Linked DNA regions of Homo sapiens. The protein of the gene in region 2 purifies or fractionates together with the protein of the main gene of each other region. This does not show direct contact. Each region holds a gene or a part of one and is shown on either strand. Other genes may lie near its edges. The genes, in order: QSOX2, SLC7A2, ABCG2, CACNA2D1, VPS45, ATP9A and LMAN2.

Region 1 (3,787 bases), on a different chromosome or scaffold from region 2:
GGAGTTTCCCTGCAGTGTAAACTCCCTGTTTTTTGCTTTAAAAAGACAGAATAAGTGAAATCTGTTTGGAGAGGTGTTCTCATTATCAGCTGTTGTATAACAAATCACCCCAAAATTTAGCAGCCAGAACCACGGGAACCACGCACGGTTATGAGCTCATGGTTTCTGAGGGCCGGGCATGGCCTCATCTGGGTCCTCTTCTTCAGGATTGGTCAGGCTGCAGTCGGAGTGTCAGCTGGGCCTGGGGGGTCACCCAAGGCCCACCTGGGGAGAGTGGCTTCCCAGCACCCTCATGGGGCAGAGAGCAGGGCCTGCCTCCTTGCACGTGGCTTGCCTAAGGCCCTGAGCTCCATGCTGGCTGTTGACTGCAGGCCACGCTCAGGGCCTCTCCATCGGGCGGCTCACATCATGGCAGCAAGCCTCATCAGCAAGCCAGTGAGAGGGTGCCTATCCGAGGATGATATTCCATCACCTCTGTCAGATTCTGCTTACTAGTCAGTCCCCAGGCCCAGGCCACTCGCAAGGGGAGGACATTACAGGAGGCGTGAGTATAGGTGGTGTGATCTGTGGGGACCGTCGCAGAGGCTGCCCACCACAAGGGGTTAAAACCTATAAAACTTCGAAGTTGGATTTAATAATTTTCAATTACTAGGAAATAGATAAAAACAAATTTTCTGTCCTTCACAGAACACTAAAGTATGTATTGGATTTTTTATCCCCCCTGAATTTTGTTGTGTGTGTGCTTCCCAGTTGAAGCAGTAATTCAGGTTCATTAATGTTTACTTCAAAGCCGAAGTGGAGTCTTGACTCACACAGTTCAACGCTCTTTCCAGTAAGATTCTCAAATTCCTTTACGGTTATTTTTTGCCACATAACAAACTAACCTAAAATGCTGGGGCTTAAAGCAGCCACCACTGTTTGCTTATCATGCTGTGGATCAGCAGTTTGGGCTGGGCTCGGCTGGGCGGTTCTTCTGTGAGTTGCTGCTTGGGCTCACTCGTGTGTGTCTGCCTTCGTCTGGTGGCAGCTGGTCAGTCCAGGGGACCTTGGAATGCCTCGTACTCCTGAACGTGGCTTCCCCACCAAGTAGCACCAGGTTCAGGCAGGACCCCCTGAGAGTCCACCTCAGTGTGGAGTCACATATTATTACTTCTGCCGCATCCTGTTGACCCAGCCTAAATTCGTGGTGAGAGAAATAGATTCCACCTGTTAATGGGAGAGTGTCCCGGGATGGGGGCACTATAGTGGCCTTCTGAAAATCTGTTTTGGCCCTCCTCAAGGTGATATTGGATTACTGCTTCTCGGGGGTCTGGTTGGGGGAGAGGGTGGGTTTTAACCTCAAATCCTTTTCATAATCATACAGAAAAAAAGAGTAGTATGTTTTTGGGGAGAAACCTTGGGAGCTGTCCAAACAGAAATTGAAATCACAGCATCCACACTGCCTGATCTAATGCCCAGCTAGACCATGCAAACCTGATTCCGACCGAATGCCCAGCCAGACCATGTAAATCTGATTCTGAGCTGTGCACAAGGCTCACACCTGTAATCCCAGCACTGGAGGTTGCAGTGAGCCAAGATCATGCCACTGCACTCCAGCCTGGGCAACAGCAAGACTGTCTCAAAAAAAAAAAAAAAAAAAAAACACAACAAAACTGCTTCTGAAGCGTGAGCCTGAGTTAGGAAACCTCACGTTTACACATGGAAAGTTCTGGTGAGGAGATGAGCTGACATGCCATCCCCCTTTCCGTCTGCTCTGATCACACGGGCACACGCAGGCATGAGGAACGGCTCCTTGAAGGCAGTGTGGGTACAGTGTTGGCCAAGGGGAGAAGTTGAGTGACCGGGGTATTTGATTTTAAACTCTTCTAGGACCAGCCCTAGTGTAGTGGAATTGTAAGAGCAGTGTGATGGCAAAGCACACTGCTAGCAAGACCCTCAGCGCTCCTTCCGCCCATCAGCATATTGGAAGCAGCCTCCAGGAGTAGCCTCCTGCCAAGAGAATTGGGTCAGAGGCGACCACGGGATTAAGTCTTGGAAGGTTTTTCTTCTCTTTACTGTATGTTTAAGCCCTATCTAGTAAAATGCCTGTGAAGGCCTCTAATCCTCCCACAGGTAGAGGTTTATGGTTCTTGTCCACTTTAAAGATTAGGGTGGCCCCGCGCCTGCGGTGATGTGGGGAAGAGGAGGGGGATTACGTGGAGATGCAAGGCAGATGTCTGTGGAGCCCTCCCGGCAGGAGAGCAGGGCAGACGGGCCGGGTCACAGGGCCAGCGCCTGCGGTCCCATCTGAGACACCGCCCAGCTGCCCGTGGACACGCTCAAGGCTGAGGAGGAGGTGGTCTGCTCTGCTCTGCTCTCACCTTTCTGGGTGAAATAAACAAGAAGTGTCGGGATTTGGGACCGACCAGGACGCTGAGGTCAGGGCCTGCACGCAGCTGTGTTTTGCAGGGAGCCACGACAAGCGTCAGGCCTGCACTCACGCGGGAAGCTCCCCCAGGGCCTGCTGTCGATGAAGACGGATTCATTCGCGAAAGCATGTCTTTTTTTAATGCTGACATGTAATCTGTTTTAATCTCATGGGTCTCCTATCTGTGCGTTCAAGCTCCTGTGTCAGTCGTCTGAGTGGGGACTGCCGAGCCCCGCCCCATGCTGCCCCCTTGGTTTTCTCAGGGGTTCCCCTTGGTTGCGGTGCTGGCTGCTTCCTGCCACCTGTGGGCAGGTGTTGCTTTCTTGAGATGTGTGTTGTTCATTCACAGTATCTGCGGAAGCGCCCCGGCCTGTCCATGTCTGTTAATACGTTCGGTGGCACAAACTCTGGCTGTGGGTGCACCCGTCCCTGTGCCTGCCCACCTGCTCCACATCCTCACGCCCGTGGCTGGCGGCAGCTTAAGAGTCACTTCCTAAGGCCGTGTCCCCACTTGGGCTGGTGTCCTGCAGGGCTTTCAAACGCGACAGCTGCAGGTTTAGAATGAGCAGAGTCATTGCCCTGGTACCAGCCCCTGAGAGTTGCTTGTAAGGCAAGAGAGACTGCACCCAGCTGGCAAATCCCGGGGAAGAGCGGCACTCCGGGCGTTCTGGCACAGACGGCTGGAAGACTGGTGGGAGGTGGGAGGCGCCCCTGGAAGGGCTCCTTTGGGCCCTGGCGGCCGAGTCCGTGGCTCATCCTCCTGGCACCAGGGCATCTGGGGAGCATGTCCGCCCTCTGGGCTGTCCACAGTCATTGTGTCTCCAGAGCCTGCAGCACCCGTGGGCGTGTTGGACATCTTGGCAGGTGCTGGCTTCTGGTCTGTGCCCACAGCCTGAGGCCCCTGGGGAGACATGAGGTGGCTTCCCGACATGTCAGGAGCGGTTTCCCCCCAGGCTCTCTGGACAAGCGTGGGGTCAGGTGATGCCCACGCACCTGCCGTTGTCAGCAGTGTTTCTTCCCCTGCAGGCTTTGAAGACGACCCCCAGGCTGTGCTGCAGACAATGAGGAGGTACGTTCACACCTTCTTTGGGTGTAAGGAATGTGGTGAGCACTTTGAGGAAATGGCTAAAGAATCCATGGACTCGGTGAAAACCCCAGACCAAGCCATCCTCTGGCTGTGGAAGAAGCATAATATGGTGAACGGCCGCCTGGCAGGTGAGAAGCCCCTGGGCATGGGGGGCTCAGCACGGGCGGAGGGAGGCCCTGGTCCTGGGACAGCAAGGACGGCACGGCTGCCGTGGGGCTTGTCCCTGAGCTTTGCGGCCTCGTGCCACCCACTGTGCTGACGGGATCAGGACTTGGGTGGCTGAGAGCTGCCAG
Region 2 (3,787 bases):
CACACATTTAAATAGTTTCCAGCTTTTTAAAATTATATAATAAATTATAGTTAACCATTAAAATCTAAAAATGTTAAGTTGTAATTGTACTGATCCCCAATTTAAAAATTCCACATAGGCCAGACACAGTGGCTCACGCCTGTAATCGCAGCACTTTGTGGGGCCGAAGCGGGTGGATCACAAGGTCAGCAGATCAAGACCATCCTGGCCAACATAGTAAAACCCCATCTCTACTAAAATACAAAAAAAATTAGCCAGGCATGGTGGTGCCCGCCTATGGTCCCAGCTACCTGGGAGGCTGAGGCAGGGGAATCGCTTGAACCTGGGAGGTGGAGGTTGCAGTGAGCCAAGATTGCACCATTGCACTCCAGCCTGGCAACAGAGTGAGAGTCTGCCTCAAAAAAAAAAAAAAAAATTCCACAAATAAGTAGTGCATTCTAGTAATTATTATTTGTTTTCACAAAAACAGAATGGTCTGATTTTTCAACATGCTTGGACTCTAGTCTTCACTCTACCCCTAGCTGTCTAACCTCACATGAGCCGAGATTGCGCCACTGCACTCCAGACAGGCAACAAAGCAAGAGTCTGTCTCAAAAAAAAAAATTCCACAGAAGTAGTGCATTCTAGTAATTATTATTTGTTTTCACAAAAACAGAATGGTCTGACTTTTCAATATGCTTGGACTCCAGTCTTCACTGTATCCCTAGCTGTCTAACCTCAGATGAGTTACACCTCTCAAGATCTCAGTCTCTTAACCTATAAAAAGAGCGTTCTAAAATGTCATTCTGAGGCACTTACTTCTCTTCCATATTCGTCTAGCACCGTGCCAGAAACTTGATAACTGTCCACGGCGAGGGAGGCTAGAAAGGAACGTGTCCAAAGCCTCTGAAATTTCGCACAGGACAGTTTTAAATGTACTGTGAAGTTTACGCTTTAAAATACAAAACCAACTACCACAACAGTGTCTCACCATTTTTATAGTGATATAACCAAATGAATTTCCAGGACACCTAGACTTATTCATGTTATCAATCCTCTTTAAAGAAAATAGTGATTTTTGTTATAAAAATGAAATTCTGCTAAGTTTCAAGAGAGTTTAAAGCAGGCACCAGCCCAGCACTTGTTTTCACAGCTCTAGTACTACAAATTTTATCAACACCCACTATTGTCTCTGAATGGCATGTAAAAGTGCTCTGTGCTATGTTCTTGATGAATTGTACAGACACAAGTCCTACTCCACCTACACAACCACTATGCCACAAATGCAACGCATTTAAAAGAGGGCTTTCTTTTGCAATAAAACATTACAAATCCTAACTACAAGTAAAGCAAGTGTTGCAAGAGATAATTTTTCAGTAGCTAAATCAGCATTAAAATTCCTCACTTCGTCTCAATATTATACCTTAAGCATGTTATTAAACAAACATTAACTGTAAAAGGAAACGCTATGGGTTAGTTATTTTACATTGTAAAAACTGATAAGGCCCTGCAAGGATGCTTCCACTGGTCTTTAGTATGATTCAGTTCTACTCAACTGTAAGTTTATTAAATCTCAGAGATTTCTACAAGAATATCCGTATCAGACTGACATTGAACTGGCAAGATTAGATTTCAAATGTCACACTAAAGATGCTCCAATTTTAGATAAGAAAAGAGGGCACTGACTATGCTTACCCATTTTTTTTCTGTTTATGTCAGACATTTACAAATACTCAGTTTAAATTATCTCAGCCAAAACTCAAGTAAATTTGTTTCTGGCCCATAGGAAGACATTGAAATCTACGAGTCTAAGAATCTGGAGGAAAGAAAGATGGCGAGGCTGGAGATCACTGAAGTCAAGTATACCCTTGAGGCCAGGGAACAGCATCCACCATGGCACTAGTTGAGAAGGGTCATTGCTATGTTACTGTCATACCTCTGTGACTCAGAGTGACCCCAACTGCCACATCTACCTCTGGGCCAGTTCTCAGCCCCAACTTGGAGGCCATAAGCGGTCTTCTTCAGCAAGAGGAAAGGATGCATGACCAAGAAGGCCCCATCCTGCTCACAGGATTCTCTCCTAAGATATTTCTTCGAGAAGTTGAAATGGTTTCTGCATTCCAAGGTTCTTATCTTGGGTTTCTGAAACCCTAGTTGCCCACTGGTTGGAATGTGGGAAGTCTTGACCTTCCAGAAATCTTACACAAAATTGCCAGAGGGAAGAGGCACAGTTTACATACAGATGTGCATTCTTTTTTACAGGGAAGTGAACTGGATGGGATCGGGTGGGCGGCGGGGGGGTGGGGGGTGGTACATGCTTCCATCACTTAATTTCCTTAACTCCCCTAAAACATCAAGGGAGCCACTGCTGCACAGAACAGCTGCTATGATCTTAGAGTTCTTCTTTCCCACAGAGGCACGAATGTAAACAGAATGGCCAGCAGATCGGAGTAAAGGAGGAGGAGCTCCTTCTCTGTGTATCAGGGAACTATGGGAACCATTCATGCAAATGCCTTTCATTAGAAAAAACTGTAAAAGTCACGCAATCTTTTCTTTTTCTGGACCTGAATTTCTTTAGTTCTCCTGTTTGAGTCAGTTACTCAATCTTTTAAGAGTTGCAGTAAAATTTCAGAGACTGCTCAAACAGTATGGCGCTTAAGTTGTAAATATTATACAATTCTACCTAAAAAGAGTATGACCTTTAACTTCTCCAAATGTATTAATAAAAGTTGGTAATAAAGATGAAAGCCAAAGAGAAGACGATGTGGTAGAAGAGTAACTGAGAACATATATGGGTTCTCTAAGGAATGCATATAGAAATACAATTGATAAACCGGATAGAATTAATTGTTACTTTGGTCACTCAAAATGACCTCAATTTTATCCCATAATAAGAACCACTGGCAATTCTATCAAGTATGGGCTCCGCCAATTAGAATTACATAAACATTTAAAAATATCACTGCAATACAAGACTTTAAAGTATGAAATAATTTAAAGTGCAACTAATTGAAAGGTAAGGGTTTCAATCCCCTAGACACTGAACTCCATAAGAAACTGACCAGTGGTCCAGGAGAGCCACAAGATCTCATTTACCACCGGCCTCAATCTCACTAAGCACTTGGCACATTCTCAGAGGGCACACAGCTGGTGCCCAATACTTACTCCTCACTGAGGCTCACTAAACACTCAGCAGTGCCATTTTGTTTCAGGATGATCAATAAACTGAATTCTTAGTAGTTTGTTATTCTTCTACCAATGCCTTCACAAAGGTCCAGATCAATGCAAAACGCCAGGCCTCTGAGTTGAAATCGAAATCTCACTTTGCTTGGGGAATCACAGCCAATGTGACTTCACTTTCTTGCCATAGGCTGCTGTGGAACAAAGGTAAATTCCTCATGTGGCCAAAACACACCTGAGTGTTGCTGAGGACTTAAGGATGGAGGGTCAAAACTCACCCCAGGCTCCTTCTAGGTTTCCCCAGAACTCAAGAGCAAAGACGTCTCCCAAACAATTGCTTAAATCACAACTGAATTAAAGAAACCACTTAAAACTTGCTGGTGAATTCAAACATAAATATAAAATTGTATTGTTTCATATGATCATTAAACAAAAAGTCCATACAGAGTAGCCTAAAGCTTTGAGCTCAGGCTTTTCCCACAGGAATTCATACCCACATTGATACAAATTATCATGAAGAGTTTCCATTTGAATTTTTGTCAGGACAAGTACCTTGGCAAGTTGCAAATATTCTGCGAACTATGAGCGCCGCGTATGAATAATAAGTACTCTTTGATACAAATTATCA
Region 3 (4,481 bases), on a different chromosome or scaffold from region 2:
TGTATTTTTAGTAGAGGCAGGGTTTCACCATGTTGGCCAGGCTGGTCTCGAACTCCTGGCCTCAAGTGATCTGCCTGCGTCAGCCTCCCAAAGTGCTGGGATTACAGGCATGAGCCACCGTGCTGGCCTTAATTTTGTCTTAAAATGAAGTATGACTAACATGTATTTCTATATGGGCCTTTAAGGGTCTTGAAACTGACAGAAATTAATTCAAAAGAATAATTTTACCCAAATGTTTGGGCGCATCATGAATATATACCTTAAAATTCTTTTAAAAAGCATGCGGTATGGTATATTTAAAATTCTTTTTAAAAAATTATGTATAGTCAATTTTCTTATCTAGGCTTCCTAGCTAAAACTTTCCTGCATTGGGTGAACCATTAATAGTTATTCCTAGTGTTGATTTAAACAACTTAAATGATACTATGATTTTTGTTTGTAAATGCAAACCAGAAAATATCTGCATGCAGGTACTAATTTCCTAGGGTAGATGCAGCAGGTAGATGTTGGGATGGCTACACTCACAAAGCCTGATGGCCCGTTTCCTGAACATGCGCAATCACTTTCTAGCCTTTCCACACCATCGGAATATTGCACAGAAGTATGTCAGTCACAGGAGTGTAAAGAATAACATTTAAACTATGGTAATATTTTCATTCAGTAAGTTTCTCCCCTTTCCTTCCTTGGGTTAGATTCAGTGCCTGATTTTTTTAGGCCCTGGGGCGCAAGCATCCACTTTCTCAGAATCCCATTCACCAGAAACCACCCATTTAACTTGCTCTGGGTGCGAGCAGCGCTTGTGACTGGGCAACCTGTGCGTCAGCGTCCCCGGTGCTTCGGCGCTCCGGCCAGTGACGGCGACCAAACCCAGCTAGGTCAGACGAGGTACTGATCAGCCCAATGAGCGCCTGGTGATTCTCGTAGTTAATCACTCTGGTTCATTCCGTTCGATCCCGGAGGCGGGAGTGTTTGGCTTGTCCCTGCGTGTCACGGCAGGGTGACCCTAGCCCCGAGGGAGGGCGGTGGTACCAGTCCTGCTGGCGGCTCAGCGCGGCAGGACACGTGTGCGCTTTCAGCCGGGTCGCAGGGCGCTTATCGCGGCCCGGCAGTCGGGGCCACGCCTCACCCCCGCCCGCGAACCCCGACCTGGGGAAACCCGGGGCGCTGGGGAGGGGCCACTGCGTTCAGCTCTGGCGGTCCACAGCCCGAAGCGCGGCTTAGGAAGTTCGTGTCAGCGCTGCCTGAGCTCGTCCCCTGGATGTCCGGGTCTCCCCAGGCGGCCACCCGCCGGCTCCCATCGTGACCTCCAGCCGCAGCGCCTCCCACGCCGGCCGCCGCGCGAGGGGAGCGCTCGGGCGCGCCGGGTGTGGTTGGGGGAAGGGGTTGTGCCGCGCGCGGGCTGCGTGCTGTGCCCACTCAAAAGGTTCCGGGCGCGCAGGAGGGAAGAGGCAGTGCCCGCCACTCCCACTGAGATTGAGAGACGCGGCAAGGAGGCAGCCTGTGGAGGAACTGGGTAGGATTTAGGAACGCACCGTGCACATGCTTGGTGGTCTTGTTAAGTGGAAACTGCTGCTTTAGAGTTTGTTTGGAAGGTCCGGGTGACTCATCCCAACATTTACATCCTTAATTGTTAAAGCGCTGCCTCCGAGCGCACGCATCCTGAGATCCTGAGCCTTTGGTTAAGACCGAGCTCTATTAAGCTGAGTGAGTAAATTGTAAAACCAGTTTCGCTGAGAGTGTGTGTCTGGAAAGGTTGGTGGGCGTTGTGTATATATTTGTTAGAAAATCGGTAACCGTTCAAACGAGACGACTGAGTTTTTTAGCCTTTCGCAGTTTCATTTGAAAGTGGGTATGCAGTTTAAAACTGACAGTTCAAAGTGGTTTTTCAGAAAATGATGCCCTGGTGCAAACTGATTCTGGGTCCCATAGTGTGTTAAGTGTGGGTTGGTAAAAACTCTTGGCCTTTCTCCAAATGTATGAAATTAAAGTTGATATTGGAAGGATAAAAACCCACTGAGCACAGAAGTTACTATAGGTGGAGGAAACATTTGTTGATGTTAATATTTTAAAGGGGTTGACCAATATAGGAATTGGTCAATGACAATTGGGAATAGGTAAATGACAAATTATTGGTCAATCCCTTTAAAGCTTTGGATGGTTTGCTAAAGAATTATTGAACTCCCTTTTGTAATTTTCTGTGGATAGTTGAGTGCTCTTACTCCCTTCTCAGTCCTAGAGATATCCCCTAAAGCTTGGTTTTTAGGAGGATCTTACAGCTCTCTTATCATTTGAATGTCAGCTAGTCATAAATAAATACACCAGAGTAGTAAGGAAGAGATGTTTTTTATTGATATTCTTTACAAAACAGTGCTTTCAGAGTACAGCTTTGACTGGATTGTATAGATCTTGATGAGATCTTGATGAGAAAGGTTTCAACGACAAAGATGGCATGTTAAGTCTAACATTACCCTTCCATTATAAACATTGAAAGATGTTGGTTATTTTATTATTTATTTTATAATAACTTTTAATTGTGAAATAATTTGAGAGTTACTGAAAATTTGCAAAAAATAGTACAGAGAGTTCCCATAATATCATGCATAACAAGGGCCAAAACTAATAACATGGGCATGCTACTATAATACAATGAACTAAACTACAGACTTTATTTGGATTTCACTTGTCTTTCCACTGTCCTTTTTCTGCCCAGGATCCAATCGATGATCTCACTTTGCATTTAACTGCTAAATATCCTTAATTTTCTCTGATCTGTGACAGTTCCTCAGCCTTTCATTGTTTTTTCATGGACCTTGACACTAGTGAAGAAGACCCGGTCAGTTAATTTGTAGAATGCCCCTCAATTTGTGTTTGCTTGATGTTTAGTGTCATGATTAGATGAATGTTCTGCATTTTGGGGAAAAATGTCACAGAAGTAAAGTTTCCATCTCAGTATGTCATATTGGGTACATGATGTCAATACTTTTTTTTGAGACTGAGTCTTGCTTTATTGCCCAGACTGGAGTGCAGTGGCACGATCTCAGCTCATTGCAACCTTTGCCTCCCAGGTTCTAGCGATTCTCCTGCCTCAGCCTCCTGAGTAGCTGGGATTATAGGCGCCTGCCACCATGCCCAGATAATTTTTTGTATTTTTAGTAGAGACAGGTTTCATGTTGGCCAGGCTGGTCTCGAACTCCTGACCTCTAGTGATCCTCCTGCCTTGGCCTCCCAAAGTGCTGGGATTACAGGCGTGAGCCACTGTGCCCTAGCCGATACTTCTTATTACCTATGATGTTAATCTGTTTGCCAGATTCCCTTTGTATTTGAGATCTTGGGAGAGAAACCTGCACTGCCATTTTTCCTTAAACTTTTATTCATTAATTTAAGCATCCATTTGTGGAACATGTTGTTTAGCGGGTTTTTTTTCCTAATGGTTAAACAAAACCCCTATTTTCTTCCTTCTACATTTTTTAATTAAAATTCCCTTCTGTAGGGAAGAGTTGACCCTTCTCTCCTGTTCATTGATTCAGTTATTTGTATCAGTATGGGCTCATGGATATTTGTTTTGTTATATGGGTTATAATCCAATATTATCAGTATTTAATTTGCTGCTCAAATTGTTCTGGCTTTCACCACTGGGACCTTTTTCAGGTTGGCGCCTGTGCCACTTTGACATACACTTGCTTTTTCTTTTTCCTTCTTTTTTTTTTTTTTTTTTTTTTGAGACGGAGTCTTTGTCGCCCAGGCTGGAGTGCAGTGGCACGATCTCGGCTCACTGCACCCTCCGCCTCCCAGGCTCAAGCGATTCTTGTGCCTCAGCCTACCAAGTAGCTGGGATTACAGGTACGTAGCACCACACTTGGCTACTTTTTGTATTTTTTAGTAGAGACGGGGTTTTCCATGTTGGCCAGGCTGGTCTCAAACTCCTGGCCTCAAGTGATCTGCCCGCCTCGGCCTCCCAAAGTGCTGGGATTACAGGTGTGAGCTATCATGCCCGGACTCTTTTTCTTTTTTAATGCATTTCTTGATTTCTGGCATCAGAGAATGCTCAGGCTTATTTTGTATTTTCCATGTCCCAACCTTGGAATGATCCATTTCTCCAAGGCACTGTGATTATTTTGCTTTAGAATGGTATTAGAAGCTAATATCTGGACACTGGATGTTCTATTAGAGTTACTTCTTTTTTTTTTTGAGATGGAGTCTTGCTCCAGGCCAGAGTGCAATGGTGGGATCTCAGCTGACTGCAACCTCCTCCGCTTCCTGGGTTCAAGCAATTCTCCTGCCTCAGCCTCCTGAGTAGCAGGGATTACAGGCATGTGCCACCACGCCCAGCTAATTTTTAATGTTTTTAGTAAAGACGAGGTTTTGCCATGTTGGCCAGGCTGGTCTCGAACTCCTGACTTTGGGTGATCCACCCGCCTCGGCCTCCCCAAGTGCTGGGAATACAGGCATGAGCCACCGTGCCCGGCCTAGAGTTACTTTTG
Region 4 (3,787 bases), on a different chromosome or scaffold from region 2:
AATAATCTTCCCTCCACCTCTAAAAACAAAGTGTCTCTACTCTGTGCTTTGTAAGCTGTGACTTGCTGCTCTCCTCTCAGGAATCCTGTGGCATTAATTATTACTTTCCCCTCAAAATCCCCATCTTGCCTTTCTCCTCTACCCTCATTACAACAAAATTAAATTCTCCATCTCTTTTTAAAAGATATTTTATGGATACTGACTAACATTAACCATGACCTAAAAAAACTGTATTTTTCCCAGTTCCTTCAAATTCAAATAAAGATAACATTCAGTTCTTCAAGTCAGAGAAGACTAGAAGTAAAAACAAAACAAAACAAGACTTTTTTTTTGTAAATCTGTTTAGTTACTATATAGAAAAATAAATAATATTTGGCTTAGAATTATTTAAATTACTAATATATTTAATAACTTTATATTAGAAATTTTTAATATGGGTTATTTTAGGAAAAAAAGTTAAAATATAATCAAATTTCTCTATGTTCTGCCTAAAGAGAAAGGAATTATCTTGATCATGTAATTATTATAGTTGAAGAAATAACAGCTTATCAAAGTTAGAATTTTAAAAATTACAAATTTTAAAAGTCTACAGAGAAACTAAAGATTGCTGACATTTTCAGCTTAAAACAATTACTCACATCTCTGACTCCAACACAATTTTCAGTTTTTTCTGTAATGATTATAACAGTATATACAATTTCTTAATGATTATAACAGTATATACAATTTCTTAATGAAATAGGACTACTCCTGAAATAAATAAATTACCTGGAACAGTTTCCACAGTCTAATACACCACTGAATGATTTACTGTCGTTATCGAAGAAATACTGGGTTTGTTCAGTAATGCAGCTCTGCTTGGACAGGGAGGCCGTGAAGTCATCATCCTCCATCTCAACTTGGGTGGCGGGGGACGGTGTAAAAACAAAGAACACCATTAGGAGGGGTCTCTGTAGTCACTCCCCTCGAGTCTTCACTTCTCACAGAGCAAAATAAACGTATAAGACCAGGACCCCTCGACTGGCTTGTTTACTGCTGTGTAATATCGTGGCAGCCCGTAATAGATGCCTGATAAATATCAAGAGAATAAATGAATTCAAATACAAGATGGCTATGAGATCAGGCCCGTGTGACCTAGGTAATTTCTAAAACATTAGGAAAGGTTGGACAAAAAGTTTCTAGCTCTAAAATTATGAGATGGGTGACCTGTTTTCTCTTTCACACAAATATTCTCTGAATTTGTTGAACTTCAAGCACATCCCAAAAGAAAATTTTTATTGTTATGGCAATGACAAGGTCTGAGCATTTACATACCTGCCTCAAGGAGTCGTGGAAAGGTCAAACTCAAGAGAAACTGCTGTAGAATAGACCTGAATTTTTCAAATAAAAAAAAAATAAACATCTAGGGAAAAAATGTGTTTTTACATGTACCCATACACATAAATACTGTTTCCCTTTATCTTTTTGGGAAAGAAAGTCTTGGAGTGTTTTTATTTAAGTATTTTCAAAATTATATAACACATTGTAACCTTTTTGTAATGTGTAAAAGAAGTCATGAAATCAGAAGTGTTCAGATCTTGTTCAGGATCAAGTGGGACACAATGTGTGAAGAAACCTAACAGGCAATGTTATCAAGCAGAAGAGTTCACTCTAAGAGGGAGAATGTCTGTTTCAGCGCGTAGGTTTTCACATTCATTACGTCTCCTTATTTTAGTTTTTAAAACCATTTGTTTTTTGGGTTTCCCCCGCCCCCAACAAAGAAACAATGCTGTTTATACCATGGGTTTGAATTTGTTAACTATTTACTTTGTAATATAGAATATATTTGTAAATATGTAATGTAACTTTCATGAAACAAAATATACATATTAGAGAGATACAGCACATTTCAGTTTTACAGTAACTGACAACTGAGCCAAATTTCTAGAACTGAATTTAGTTTAAAAAAAAGTGGGGGTGGGAGGGGATATAGGATAAAGCCAAGTATTTCAGGGTCATGATGAAATTTTAAAAGCCTACTGAAATTAATATATAAAATCACATCAGAAAATACCATTTTTCAGAATAAAACAGAATTTTCTAAATCTTTTAAAAACTCTCAAAATTTTAAAATCTTTTTTGCTGCTTTAATGATATAGTCACTTAATTTTAGCTGGGCAAACCTCAACATCAAATGAATATTGTACATTAATCTACATGGAATAGGGCTAACAATACAGTGTGATGATACAAAAAAAAAGATTAGAAGGGAGAGAGGGAAGAGGGAGATCATGGATTCCAGACGTAACAGGAGGTTTAGTTACAACTAAACAATGAGAAATGTGATCTTCCAGACCTTCCACAGTGCCACAATTGACCATTTAAATGTCTTATTTTCATAGGTTGTAGGGTCTACAGGTGAGGGTTGAGGGAGGTTTGGAAGGTAGCATCAGTGAAAAGAAATAATTAGATCCATGTCGGCAACCTGATGCCCCTAAAACAATACTAGTCCTTGTATCAATAGTAAAGAGGTAGAAGGTTGCCATCATGCCATGAATTTGATGCATGTAGACATCCAACTGGGATATTAAAGACAAATTGTAACTTCTTACAGATCAATACACCTAAAAGAAATTAGTGTAATGTTTTTATAAATATTTAATACAAATGAAAAGAGTTTCAATAGATATGTAGAGGAAGGAAGACTCTAAAGAGGCTGAAGTTTACATCCGCATAACATTGTTTTCATATGAGAAACTGAATAATGGTAACTTTATAGTGTTCACTTAGGAAAAACTATAAATATTACCAATAGGTGATGTAAAGAATGAAAACAACTTAACTCCCTTAATAAAAATTTGAATATCCCCTAAATCCATATTTTCATCAGATGCTTTTTTATTTTACAACTTCTTTCTTTCATTACCAATAAAACTAAAATTTTGACTTACCAGGCAGCAGCAGTGGCCCACCAGCCAATTTGTAATATGTCTGCTACTGATGGCTATAAAATAAAATAATAAGGTCATTTCAGTAGTCTACTTGATACTGAGGACACTTGAGTACCCCTTGAGAATTGATTAGACCGTGGATATTACTGACCACATATGCTGAGCGATGTCCTGCTCCTTGTTTTGGTGCAGCACCGGGCTCACATACTGACTGATAATCATAAGATTTGTTAAAAGCATAAACTGATATATTAACCAGGTGTCTCATCAAGCTGGGATCAATCTCTCCAAAAAATCTTCCAATCTGGTGAAGAAAAAAATCATAAAGCAACGTGCACTTAAAATGTAAGCCAAAAATGAACACGGGAATCACCACTACAGTGAAAAGAAATAATACAAAGAAACTGAACTACAACTGAGGAGCTTAAAAACAAAAGCAAATGAGAAACGTGTATATGACACTGTGAACAAACTAAAATGAGAGTAAGTGTTCTCATTACTCAGTGGGGCTGTGTGATATTTTATTTGTGGAAAGAATGGACACACATTACTAAGCATTAAATCACAATCAAATGCTTCCCAGATGAATAAAACAGGGCCGGGGAATGGAGAGGTATAAGTGGAAGGGTACAAAGAAGCAGTTATGTAGAATGCATAAGCCTAGAGATTCAACATACAACAGAGGACTGTAGTTAATAATACTGTGTTGTCTACCAGAAATTTGATGAGAGTAGATTTTAAGTCTTCTTACCATACCGCAAAAAAGGTTAACAACCTGAGATGATGGATATGTTAATTGGCTTGACGCAGTAATCACTTAACTATGCAAATCAAAGCTTTTTTTTGTACACCTTAAA
Region 5 (3,787 bases), on a different chromosome or scaffold from region 2:
CTCAGCAATAAAAAGAAATGAACTATTTTTAAATTAAGAAAACTTTTTTTTTTGCAGTTCCAGCTCAAAGGAGGAATGAACTATTAATACACACAACAGGTGAGGTGTGGTGGCTCATGCCTGTAATCCCAGTACTTCGGGAGGCTGAAGCGGGCGTATCACCCAAGGTCAGGAGTTTGAGACCAGTCTGGACAACCAACACGGTGAAACCCTGTCTCTACTAAAAAAAAATACAAAAATTAGCTGGGCGTGGTGGTGTGTACCTGTAATCCTAGCTACTCGGGAGGCTGAGGTGGGAGAATCGCTTGAACCCGGGAGGTGGAGGTTGCAGTGAGTTGAGATGGCGACACTGCACTCCAGCCTGGGTGACAAAGCAAGACTGCTTCTCGGACAAAAAAAAAAAACAAAAACAACACACACACACACACAGAACAGCCTGGATGACTCTCCAGAGAATTATGCTGAGTGAAAAAAGCCAGTCCCAAAAGATTATATGCTGTATGATTTCATTTATAGAACATTCTTCGAATGACAAAATATAAAATGGAGAAAATATTAGTGGTTACCAGGGTTAATGAGGGGGTTGGGGTGGGACAGAAGTCCATATAAGCTAATAAAAGGGATCCTTATAGAGATGAAAATGTTGTGTATCCTGACTGTATCAGTGTTAACATCTTGGTTGTGATATTGTACTATCATCATGTAAGATACTACACAGGGGGAAGCTGGGTAAAGGGTATCTGGGATCTCTGTATTATTATTCGTTGTTTTTTTTTTAACTGCACATGAATCTACAATTACTTCAAAATAGAAAGTTTAATTTTAAAAAGAAAACCTGTGACTATTAGCCAAAAACAAACAGACAAAAACAAACAAAAATTAAGTTGCCACAGATTAATAAAATTGCCTATTTTTACCTCTTGGGGCGTCGTGCACTGAAAACCCACTGGACAAGCTTTATGTAACTTTTCAATTCTACACAGAACTGAATGAAATAAAATATGAGAGAGCTCTTATATATATATAGTCTTTTCGCAAATGTTAATTTTTTGTATCATTATTCTATTTAAGTAGTATACGCTGAAGAAAGTATGTACGTCTTAGACTGTAGTCTAAACCCTAAAACTCTAATACCTTTAAGTAAGCTTTAAAACTTCTCAAATGCCCTACTTACTGTTAAATCTAGTCCTTGGTTTTGGAAATGTTACCAAATAGACTACACTAACACTATTAACATAAAGATAAATAATGACATCTAGAGGAGAATAGATGTAACTTCTACAGCCGAATGTATTGGATCAAAAAAATCCATGTAAATTGTATAGTAAACACAAACCTAGTTTATTTCCAGATCTCCCCTACCTAACCCCCACTCCAAGAAAGTTGTGCACATAAGAGATCACTACCTGATGATTTATACTTTCAGTGCATTAAATATAGTAACAAAGAGAAGTGAAAGGCTTTTATCTGGTATGTAAAGTAAATTTCTGCTTTTCCAGCAAACTCAAGTATTACCTTCCCACTTCAAAAAATAAATCAGCTTCCATGCCTCAATTTTTAAGTGTAAAACAGGGATAAGTATATACTTTTTTTTTTTGGCAGGGGTGAGATGTGAAATTTGTCTACTTAAAACTTTTGACTTACAAAGCATCTTGAAAGGCAAAGTAAAATGTAAAATTTTTAATTTAAGCAATCAAAGATGAATGGAAATCACATTTAGCCCTCTGAAACAGAATATTGGTCAAAAGTATTTTTTTTTTTTTTGAGATGGAGTTTCGCTTTGTTGCCCAGGCTGGAGTGCAATGGCGCAATCTCGGCTCACTGCAATCTCCGCCTCTCCGGTTCAAGCGATTCTCCTGCCTCAGCCTCCCAAGTAGCTGGGATTACAGGCATGTGCCACCATGCCCAGCTAATCTTGTATTTTTAGTAGAGATGGGGTTTCACCATGTTGGTCAGGCTGGTCTCAAACTCCTCAGATGATCCGCCCGCCTTGGCCTCCCAAAGTGCTGGGATTACAGGTGTGAGCCACCGCGCCCGGCAGGTCAAAAGATTTTTAATACTTTGGAAGGACATTAAATAAACTAGACTTTTATAGTGACAGATTCAATGAAGTTATTGATGATATGAAGGGCTCAATGAAACACACTAACTGGGATGTTGTTACATGTTTGAAAAAGTGAACTAACATACTTACAAATGAAATATATAGTGTATTTGGGTCTTCGGAGCTCCTGAATAATATAATCCACATTCTCCTAGAAAATGAAGAACAAGCAAACAAAATATGAGGAGAGTTGCTTAAGGAAAAAAGTAATAAGCATTCACCCATTGATTTGTTTATTTACTGCGTCTACTGCATATTGAAGTCTAGGTTAAGTGTGCTTATGTTGGTGGGTAAGGGCTGGAGACAAAAGAGATAAATTAAATACAATGATCGGGAATCATATATTATTTAATAATATGTGTATAATATTAAATATTAACCAGCTGCATTTTGGCCAATTAAGATAAAGAATATAAAGGACACAGATGTTGAAACACAACATAAAATTGATTATAATTCTGCAAACTCACATCAAGCTGCTTGTCTATAAATTGTATTCATTTGCTCAAAATTCTTTTTTTTTTTTTTTGAGATTAAGTCTCACTCTGTTGCCCAGGCTGGAGTGCAATGGCACAATCTTGGCTCACTGTAACCTCCGTCTCCTGGGTTCAAGCAATTCTCCTGTCTCAGCCTCCCAAGTAGCTGAGATTACAGGTTTGTGCCACCATACCCAGCTAATTTTTTGTAATTGTAGCAGAGACGGGGTTTCACCATGTTGGCCAGGCTGGTCTCGAACTCCTGACCTCAACTGATCCACCTGGCTTGGCCTCCCAAAGTGTTAGGATTACAGGCATGAGCCACTGCGCCTGGCCTGATCAAAATTCCTATATAGAGCATTAAATGTGTCTATTCCTTTAAAAATTAACATGCAAGAGAAAATAAAGTTAATTATATTCACTTTGGCTTTTAACTTATTGGGATGTAAGACTCTGCACAACTACAATGTTTGTGAAGTATTTGCAAGTAGCAGGCTAAGATCTTTTCTACAATTACATTGTTTTAAAATAAAGTATGAAAGTTTAAAACAAAAAAGTTGATTTTTATATGGTCAAAATATAAGATTCCAATTACATAAGATTATAATGCAGGTTTTATTGGTTTTTGATACTATAACACCTGGTTAAATTTCAATATAAATTGTTCCCTAAACATATTAATTTGTTTTAAAAATCACATTTCTTTACAGAATTAAAAAAAAGTAAGCAATATATACTGCTTATTAATGGGGAAAGGGTTTTAAAAATTGTAATTTAGATTTAAAAATGCAATTTAGATTTCAAATTAACTTTATAATATAATCTTAAGGCAAAAAATTTAAATAATAAATCTTTTAAACCTCAATTACTTCCTCGTAATATGCTAGGCAAAAATAACAAAGTGAATTAAAAGATTCTTAAAAGTTCAGACAATGTGGAAAAAGACAAAAGAGAATATATAAAAGAGGAAAAAGAAAAAGGAAAGATTCTTTTTTAAAAATTATTTTTAATTTTTATTTTATTATTATTTTTTGAGACGGAGTCTTGCTCTGTCGCCAGGCTGGACTACAGTGGCGTGATCTCAGCTTACTGCAACCTCTGACTCCCTGGTTCAAGCGATTCTCCTGCCTCAGCCTCCCTAGTAGCTGGGACTACAGGCGCCTGCCACCATGCCTGGCTAATTTTTTTGTTGTTTTTTTTTTTTGTA
Region 6 (3,787 bases), on a different chromosome or scaffold from region 2:
GAGGGCGTGATTGCAGTAGACAGTGTTTTTGTTTTTCTTTTTGAGTCGGAGTCTTGCTCTGTCACCTTTTTTGGGCCACAAAATCTTTTTGTTCCCATGAAATCTTAATCTGAAGTCCAATCTATGAAACTGATAAAAGGGGACTTGTGATAGCAAAGTGGCAGTGCTGGGAGGTGCCGAGCCCCAGAACCTTGCCCGTGCAGCCCTGCCTTGCTGCTGTGTCCTGATAGAGCTCCTGAGGGACTCCAGGGATCTCAGAATACAATCTGCTGCTCCTCACAGCAAACCAAGTGCTGAAGGTACTCGCCAGTTCCGTAGACGTGGGAGCACCTGCCGTGTGCCAGGATTATGGTGGCAGATGAGGTGGACGGGCTCGCCAGGGAGCTGCCCTTCTCGTTGGGAACACACGATAAACACACATTAAGTGAGTGTGAGCACAGGAATATCAGATGTGATCAAAGTTACCAAGAAAGAAAAATGGGGTGAGGTGCTAGACGCCCAGGCACACCCCAAATAAAAAATGTTATGGAGGCCGGGCACAATGGCTCACACCTGTAATCCCAGCATTTTGGGAGGCAGAGGCGGGTGGATCACGAGGTCAGGAGTTTGAGACCGGTCTGGTCAACATGGTGAAACCCCATCTCTACTAAAAATACAAAAATCAGCAGGGCGTGGTGGCACACACCTGTAGTCCCAGCTACTTGGGTGGCTGAGGCAGAAGAATCGCCTGAACCCGGGAGGCGAAGGTTGCAGTGAGCTGAGATCACGCCACTGCACTCTAGCCTGGGCGACAGAGTAAGACTCCATTTCTAAATAAATAAATAAATAAATAAATAATAAAAAATGTTATGGGAATGTAGAGATGGGGGAGTGTCAGCACCATCCTAATGTGGGGTGGTGGCAGATTTCTCTGACCTCAGTAGTGATTCCAGGTACTCTTGGGCTTGTCCAGCGTCAGCCACTGTCTCTAGATGGACAAGCCTGGTTTCATCACTCTTCCATGCTGACCTCACTTGCTTTGCCATATCAGTTAATTTCTTCCCAATTGATTGAGCCACAAGTCCCTGCAGGGCCACCAAGATGACCCCATGCTATGCTACGGACCCCATCGGGTGCTGACACGGGCTTTAATTCCTGTCTAGAAACCTGTTTCTAGTTCAACTAGAACTTGCAACACGGGCACGGTTCAGATGATCCAGCATTTTCTGTGTTGTGCTGTGGATAGATTCTGAACTCTAATCTTGGTTTCCCCCGCACGGGGCAAACTCAAGCCGCTATGGCTTTGGAACCTCAGGGCCAGGGGTCATCCTGAAAGTCTAGCTGGTTTAGCAGACAGTCCTCTTTACACCTCTTTCCTCCTCAGTAGGAGCATTTAATTTTCTGTCTGTGTTATTCAAACAAAAAACCCTCAAGAGTGATACTGTTTCTCCTTTATCAGCTGGGGGAGCAGGGCCCGGAGGCTGCTTCTCTGCTAAGAAGCTCATGTGTGTTCAGGATTGCAGGATAGACTCTCTCTGGGGGAAACTTTCAGTTAATGACAACCCCCTCACGCCCCATCCTCCGTGGGAAACCTGCAGGGCCCAGGCTCTCTAGCAATGGCCCATCCCTTGCTCCTTTACCTCAGGCCTTCTCAGTGGGGGTGGTGTGGACCCCACCGCCTGGGGAACAAACAGTGGTCTTTGGTGGGGTGTGAACAAACCCTAACCTTTTACGTATAAAGGAGATGTATATATAATATTATAAACAGATACACAGTATACCTGTGACATTAACATGTCATGGAGGTGGTCAATTAGGAGAAGAAGAAAAGTCTAAAAATGTTCCTTAAGGGGCAATAACAACAAAAAGGCAGAGAAACTCGACCTTACCCTGGAAGCATCTTTGATCGCGGCTCTTTTGCCAGCTTCCAAAGCTCCTTAGGAAGGTTTTAGTAAAGGTAAAAGAAACATCCCCTGAAAAGTAAAGGTTTCACAGTTGCAGCCCCAGTTTCTAGAAAGGATTTGTGAGCATTTACTGTGCGCTCCAGGAACTAAAGGAGCATCCCTGTGAACAGTGGAGTTTTAAAGCAGTTTCACCCTTGTCACTAGTCTCTAGAAAGCGTTTTGTGAGACCTAGTATGTGCTCAAAGGCTTGGGCCTGAGGTGGTCACAGAGATGTGGCCCCTGCTCAGGAAGCTCAGCTTGTTTGTGATAGGGACACACCACAGGACCGGGTCAGAGGTGTAGGAAAACCACAGGGTGAGTTGAGCCTTGGGCCTGGCACTTAGTAGGTGCTGCCTCAGTGGCAGCTGCATTTCAGCATCCTGTGCTCAGAAAGTGGAGAAGGGGCTTATTCTGGCTTCTGCTATATTGAAAGCCACAAACTGTCACTCCTCTCTTAAGAAAACCTCATAACCGGGTTTATAATCCTGCAGCAGGAAAGGCAGTACGCCCGCCCCCCCCACCTTCCATCAGAGTCCCTGAGGGTCAGCTTAAGCCTTTCTCTGACAAGGGGGTCTGAACACTTTGCACCATGACCCAGACTCATCCTGTGGCTTTCTGCGACCATCACTGGAAGCAGAGGGTGCATTTGAATGTCATTTTCTGCTCGCCAGTGGCCGGGACTTAGAAAGACTCTCCAACTGTTAGACAACACCAAATCAAAAGCATCTCTGAGTTTTCTTCCCCTGTAATTTTCTTTCCTTCTTTTTTTCTCTTTTTTTTGAGACAGTGTCTTATTCTGTTGCCCAGGGTGGAGTGCGGTGGTGCAATGTTGGCTCACTGCAGTCTCAAGCTCCCCGGGCTCAGATGATCCTCCCACCTCAGCCTCCTGAACAGCTGGGACTATAGGCATGTACCACCATGCCTGGCTAGTTTTTGTATTTTTTGTAGAGACAGGGTTTTGCTGTGTTGCCCAAGCTGGTCTCAAACTCCTGGGTTCAATTCTTCTGCCCGCCTTGGCCTCCCAGAGTGCTGGGATTAAGGCATGAGCCACTGCATCTGGTGGCCCCCATAGTTTTCTTCTCCTGGGTGTTAAAAGTAGCATTTCACTGTCAGGAAGCTACAGAAGAGAGAGCGAGGAAAATCAAGCTGCGGCGCTGTGTGCTCTTAGCCATGGTACCTTCCCTTACAGTCCATGGAGAAAGAGGGCCAATGCCAGGAGGCTGTGGGTTTGTGACGGGAGATGACTTTCCCTTTGATAGTTGTGACGCCTGTTTCTGGACCCCATGCACCTTCCGGAATATTCCTGCCTGCTCACTGCCGTCTTCCCCTTTCCTTGCAGATGTGTACTTCATCGCCACCTTGTCATTCTTGTGGAAAGTCTCCGTCATCACTCTGGTCAGCTGCCTCCCCCTCTATGTCCTCAAGTACCTGCGAAGACGGTTCTCTCCCCCCAGCTACTCAAAGCTCACATCATAGGCCGTGCGTTCGCTGGAGGGGGCCCTGGTCTTGGCGCTTCCCTGATGGACAGAGCTCAAGTTCCATTTATATTAACCGCCACCTGTGGATTTTGCAGTAATTGCTAACACATGCAGTTTTAATGGGAAGTGGCTCTGCGCCTAAACGGAGTCCTAACGCTGCATCAACGGGAGGGAGGGTCCTGAAAGAGACCCATCTGGGCCTGTCTGAACCCCTCGTTCTTCATGTTTAGGTGAATATGAATATGTTAAAGCTGGTGGCTCAGCTGGGAGATTTATATGGGTCACTGTGCGAGCTTCCTTATGACTTGAATTTTGTTGTCACATGATAAAAGTTTCTGTGTAGCTGAAGGTTGTAGAAGGCTTGTGTGTGTGTGTGTGTGTGTGTGT
Region 7 (4,566 bases), on a different chromosome or scaffold from region 2:
ATGCAATGGCGTGATCTCTGCTCACTGCAACCTCTGCCTCCTGGGTTCAAGCAATTCTCCTGCCTCAGCCTCCCGAGTAGCTGGGACTACAGGTGTCCGCCACCACGCCGTTAATTTCTTTTGTATTTTAGTAGAGACGGGGTTTCACCGTGTTGCCCAGGCTGGTCTGAAACTCCTGAGCTCAGGTAATCTGCTCGCCTCTGCCTCCCAAAGTGCTAGGATTACAGGCCTCAGCCACTGAGCTCAGCCGGAAGTCTGGATTTCTGATGTGAATGTACATATTCCGACTTTGTGTGTGTGTGTGTGTGTGTGTGTGTGTGTGTGTGTGTGTGTGACAGAGTCTCGCTCTGTCGCCCAGGCTGGAGTGCAGTGACGCGATTTCGGCTCACTGCAAGCTCTGCCTCCTGGGTTCAAGCCATTCTCCTGGCTCAGCCTCCCGAGTAGCTGGGACTACAGACACCTGCCACCACGCCCGGCTAATTTTTTGTATTTTTTAGTAGAGACGGGGTTTCACCGTGCTAGCCAGGATGGTCTCGATCTCCCGATCTCGTGATCCGCCGGCCTCAGCCTCCCAAAGTGCTGGGATTACAGGCGTGAGCCACCACGCCCAGCCTCTATATTCTGACTTTAAAATACTGGTAGTTAAGCCATTTATTAGAATATTGGCAGGTAAAACAGAGCTCTATTCAGCTGCAGGCCACCAGTTTTCGACCTCTGATTCACAGCTTTCCTGGGCCTTCCATGGACGTTACTTGCTGTACCAGGCACTGCGCTCTTTTGCATAGGGATGAGTTCCAGTCATCACTGGGGTCCCAGGCCAGGATCTGTGTCTGTTCCTCTTGCTTCAACCCGACTAGGCCTGAGGAGTTGAGGGTAGTGGAGGCCCTCAAATAATTGGGAATTCTGAGTCTCCAAAGGCGCGAAGCTGGGGCGCCTGACGGCAGGCACGGCTTAAAGGCTTGCCCAGGGCCACCCGGGGAGGACAAGGGTTGGAATGCAGGACTCCGCCTTCAATTCAGAGCTCCTTTCTCCAGGACTAGAAAAGGTTATTCCAGAGACGGGACTTGCGGCCAGAAGCCCAAGACGTCCTAGTCTTCGCGAATCCGCCCCATTAGAGCGACCGACAAAAACTACAAATTCCAGCATGCCCCGAGTCGCGGACGGCCCTCGCGCTCCCGCCGGCTCCAACCATCCCTCTGCTCCTCATTGGCTCGCAAGCCTAACGTGCTGTTCCGTGACTGGTTACAGCTCTTGTCGCTCGAAAGAACCCATTGCTGGGGCTGGCCGGCGTGTGCCTTGGAGCCTCTAAGGAGATGAAACTGCACTCAACCAGGATGAGAGGCTGCCCGGCCAATGCAGCTGCCGCCCCGTCTGCTGCGGAGGCTTTGCTTTTTGACTCCCTGGCGACAGTAAAGTTGAAGAGCTTCCGGCCGGAGGCCAATAGATGGGACCCCCGGAAGGCGGAAGTTCTAGGGCGGAAGTGGCCGAGAGGAGAGGAGAATGGCGGCGGAAGGCTGGATTTGGCGTTGGGGCTGGGGCCGGCGGTGCCTGGGAAGGCCTGGGCTTCTCGGCCCCGGCCCTGGCCCCACTACACCTCTCTTTCTTCTTTTGTTGTTGGGGTCTGTGACTGCGGATATAACTGACGGCAACAGTGAACATCTCAAGCGGGAGCATTCGCTCATTAAGCCCTACCAAGGTGAAGCCCTTGGGGCGGGAATGAGTGAAGAGTGAGGGCGAGGCTGAACAGGGCTAGGGGAAGGCGTGCCCTTTCTCCTGAGCAGAGCATCTCTGTGGGTTTCCTGCCTCTGGTGAGGCCAGTCCTGGCGTGGCCTCTTAGCACCTGTCTCTTCCCACAGGGGTCGGTTCCAGCTCTATGCCCCTCTGGGACTTCCAGGGCAGCACTATGCTCACGAGCCAGTACGTACGTCTGACCCCTGACGAGCGCAGCAAAGAGGGCTCTATCTGGAACCACCAGGTGAGTGGTTCTCAAGAGGATAGGCGTACTGTGCGGTTGGCTGCTAGTCCCTGCCTCCCGAGCAGCTGAGACCCCAGCTTCGTTTATAGGTTTGCACCTCCGTCCCTGGCCTTTTCCTCATCTCGGTCACACCCACCAATAATAAGAGGCGATGGGTATTGGGTACTTACTATGTGTCAGGAGCTGCGCTTGACACTTTACATCCTCCTCACTTTAAAAGCCATGCGAGATGAGTAATGTTATCTCCATTTTACCCACTGAGAAGCTAAGACTCAGGTTTGAAAGGGCCTTACCCAAAGTTACATAGCCAGAAAGTAGTGGAACTGTCAGGCTGTCTGCCTTGAACCCCCTCAGTAATGGGAAGAACCGAGCGAACTGGATCTTTATTGGGTGTTTTGCTGTGTATTAGGCACTGACCTTGCCATGCCTTATTGCATTTAATTTTCAAACAAGCTGTTTGAAATAGATGGCTTTCATGACTATACAAAGATAACCCAGCTAGCAAATGTCATAAACAGTATTTAAACTCTGATTTGTCTGATCTCTAAGCCCAGCAGTTCACTCGATGTACTTGACTCTTTTCACCTGGACAGTGGAGGAACCCCTTAGAACCCTTTTTGCAATGCTTGGTTGAGGGTCTTGTCATCAGTAGTGTGGAGGGACTGGACCTGTGGGCAGTTCTAGTGTCTGTGACCTTTGCCTCAGAGTATGTAGTATGTAGTATGTGAGCAGTGGCCAATGACAGCTGCTACACAGAATCCACACTGAGGCAGTCAAGGTGAGGAAAAAGGGGAAAGAAGAATAATTTGGGGCTGGGTTACAGCTTGGAGCGGGACCTGCTCCTGCCCCAGCTTGCCTAATCTCAGCCCTTCCCATGGCTTAAGCTGTTGGCCAGTGTTCTAGTTTTCTCCATCACCCTGCTCTCTGATCCCTGCTGGTTGACTTTCTTGTTTAGTTCTGGGAACCCACACTGTCCTTGTGTTGCCTGGTCTGCCCGTCCCCTCTGCTCCTCCTCTCCTTCCTGCCCCGAGCCTCCACACTGCTGTTAGTGGCATCTGCGGATACTTTCTTCAGCTTTCAGTCTGATCCTCAGAGCGTGGAGTCCCCTGTGAAGGGGTAAGCATGCATTATGTCTGCACAATCTGGCCCCTTGTGCATCTCCAGTCATTCTCTGTGTTAATTTTGTTCCAGCCCCCCCTGGCTGCCTTCTTGCCTCAGGACCTTTGCACCTGTTGTTCCCTCTGTCTGGGACACTGCCTCCTGGCTCCTCATGCCTGCTTGGTTCCTTCTCATCTGTTAAGTCTCAATTCAAGTGCCACCCACGCAGACATTTCTTCATTAACCACCCTATCTCCCCCGAGTCACATTCTGTCACATTCTGTCTTAGGGCTTTCAGATATTTTAAAGAAATGATAATTCAGCCTTATATTTTTCATGGAAATGAGTTCAGTATAGCATTATTATTATTTTTTGAAAGCAAGGTGCAAACAGTGCTGGAACTGTAGAAATCAGGAGTAGCCACAAGTAATAGACGCATCTAAGACAGTGGCTTACATTTTGGTTGTAGATAGCTGATGGTTGGCATCATCAGTGGCTCGAGGATGTCACAGGACTGAGAGGCTTCTGCACTTGCCTTCATCGAATTTTCAGTCTGGAGTACAATTGTTTTGCCTTCCTTCCTCCACCTTTCTATTTGGCTCTGCTGATATTCCTGAAACATTTGGAGTGCTTCCTGTAAACTCTGGAAAGAAATGGCTTGGAAATCAGAATTTTCTGTTCAGTGTTTCCCAAGAACTGCCTCTTCCTTTAATGAGCTGGAGAGATGCTTCCTAAACTTTTCCCTTTTTTATCTCCTTCATTCACTCCATCCGGGAGAGGCATGCACTCAGGCGAACATTCCCTGAACACCTGCTGTCTTCTGAGCAGCCATAAAATAGCTCCTGCTGTGGTGCAGGGGGGGTGGTCTAGATGAAGGAGTGGCTCAGAGTTGACTAGAACTCTTAAGTGCCTGGTGGCTGCAGCATAGGACCTGGGGAGGCTGCTCAGGCCCTGTCCTTTTGGGGGTCTTGTGCGGAGGCTGCGGCAGTGGTCTTTAAGCTTTCTTTGCTGTTGTAGCAACCTTTTGAAAAGTTGGCATCAAAAATTGTTTGTCATTAGGTTTAAGTATTTGCAAAGGATGACAGCATATTTTAAATATTGACATTTTAAACTAAAACTGTTCAGTATTTTAAACATTCAGTGGAATCTAAATATTGCAATTTGATATCCACTTTTTTTTTTTTTTTTTTTGAGACGGAGTCTTGTTCTGTCACCCAGGCTGGAGGGCAGTGGCGCAGTCTCGGCTCACTGCAACTTCCGCCTTCCTGGTTCAAGTGATTCTCCTGCCTCAGCCCCCTGAGTAGCTGGAATTACAGGTGTGCACCACCACGCCCAGCTAGTTTTTGTGTTTTTAGTAGAGGTTTTTTTTTTTTTTTTTTTTTTTTTTGAGACAGAGTCATGCTCTATCACCCAGGCTGGAATGCAGTGGTGCGATCTCAGCTCACTGCAACCTCCACCTCACGAGTTCAAGCGATTCTTCTGCCTCAGCCTCC

What was found.
Region 1: the proteins of SLC7A2 (region 2) and QSOX2 purify together in Homo sapiens (affinity purification with mass spectrometry; one large-scale study listed by BioGRID and IntAct). This does not show direct contact.
Region 3: the proteins of SLC7A2 (region 2) and ABCG2 purify together in Homo sapiens (affinity purification with mass spectrometry; one large-scale study listed by BioGRID and IntAct). This does not show direct contact.
Region 4: the proteins of SLC7A2 (region 2) and CACNA2D1 purify together in Homo sapiens (affinity purification with mass spectrometry; one large-scale study listed by BioGRID and IntAct). This does not show direct contact.
Region 5: the proteins of SLC7A2 (region 2) and VPS45 purify together in Homo sapiens (affinity purification with mass spectrometry; one large-scale study listed by BioGRID and IntAct). This does not show direct contact.
Region 6: the proteins of SLC7A2 (region 2) and ATP9A purify together in Homo sapiens (affinity purification with mass spectrometry; one large-scale study listed by BioGRID and IntAct). This does not show direct contact.
Region 7: the proteins of SLC7A2 (region 2) and LMAN2 purify together in Homo sapiens (affinity purification with mass spectrometry; one large-scale study listed by BioGRID and IntAct). This does not show direct contact.

The regions. Positions count from the first base shown.
Region 1 is NC_000009.12:136,211,099-136,214,885, reverse strand, and holds part of QSOX2 (sulfhydryl oxidase 2 precursor), read left to right. Parts: intron 1-3,433; coding exon 3,434-3,622; intron 3,623-3,787. UniProt on the Homo sapiens protein: Catalyzes the oxidation of sulfhydryl groups in peptide and protein thiols to disulfides with the reduction of oxygen to hydrogen peroxide. May contribute to disulfide bond formation in a variety of secreted proteins.
Region 2 is NC_000008.11:17,503,575-17,507,361, reverse strand, and holds part of SLC7A2 (cationic amino acid transporter 2), read right to left. Parts: intron 1-3,787. UniProt on the Homo sapiens protein: Functions as a permease involved in the transport of the cationic amino acids (L-arginine, L-lysine, L-ornithine and L-homoarginine); the affinity for its substrates differs between isoforms created by alternative splicing.
Region 3 is NC_000004.12:88,155,609-88,160,089, reverse strand, and holds the start of ABCG2 (broad substrate specificity ATP-binding cassette transporter ABCG2), read left to right. Parts: upstream 1-1,517; 5' UTR 1,518-1,704; intron 1,705-4,481. Other genes in the region: uncharacterized protein LOC124900867, read left to right, coding at 534-620, 1,008-1,517.
Region 4 is NC_000007.14:81,961,126-81,964,912, forward strand, and holds part of CACNA2D1 (voltage-dependent calcium channel subunit alpha-2/delta-1 isoform 1 preproprotein), read right to left. Parts: intron 3,235-3,787; coding exon 3,082-3,234; intron 2,984-3,081; coding exon 2,931-2,983; intron 1,371-2,930; coding exon 1,315-1,370; intron 899-1,314; coding exon 769-898; intron 1-768. UniProt on the Homo sapiens protein: The alpha-2/delta subunit of voltage-dependent calcium channels regulates calcium current density and activation/inactivation kinetics of the calcium channel. Plays an important role in excitation-contraction coupling.
Region 5 is NC_000001.11:150,070,634-150,074,420, reverse strand, and holds part of VPS45 (vacuolar protein sorting-associated protein 45), read right to left. Parts: intron 2,256-3,787; coding exon 2,195-2,255; intron 1-2,194. UniProt on the Homo sapiens protein: May play a role in vesicle-mediated protein trafficking from the Golgi stack through the trans-Golgi network.
Region 6 is NC_000020.11:51,600,822-51,604,608, reverse strand, and holds part of ATP9A (probable phospholipid-transporting ATPase IIA), read left to right. Parts: intron 1-3,261; coding exon 3,262-3,398; 3' UTR 3,399-3,787. UniProt on the Homo sapiens protein: Plays a role in regulating membrane trafficking of cargo proteins, namely endosome to plasma membrane recycling, probably acting through RAB5 and RAB11 activation. Also involved in endosome to trans-Golgi network retrograde transport.
Region 7 is NC_000005.10:177,348,582-177,353,147, reverse strand, and holds the start of LMAN2 (vesicular integral-membrane protein VIP36 precursor), read left to right. Parts: upstream 1-1,479; 5' UTR 1,480-1,500; coding exon 1,501-1,696; intron 1,697-1,856; coding exon 1,857-1,975; intron 1,976-4,566. UniProt on the Homo sapiens protein: Plays a role as an intracellular lectin in the early secretory pathway. Interacts with N-acetyl-D-galactosamine and high-mannose type glycans and may also bind to O-linked glycans.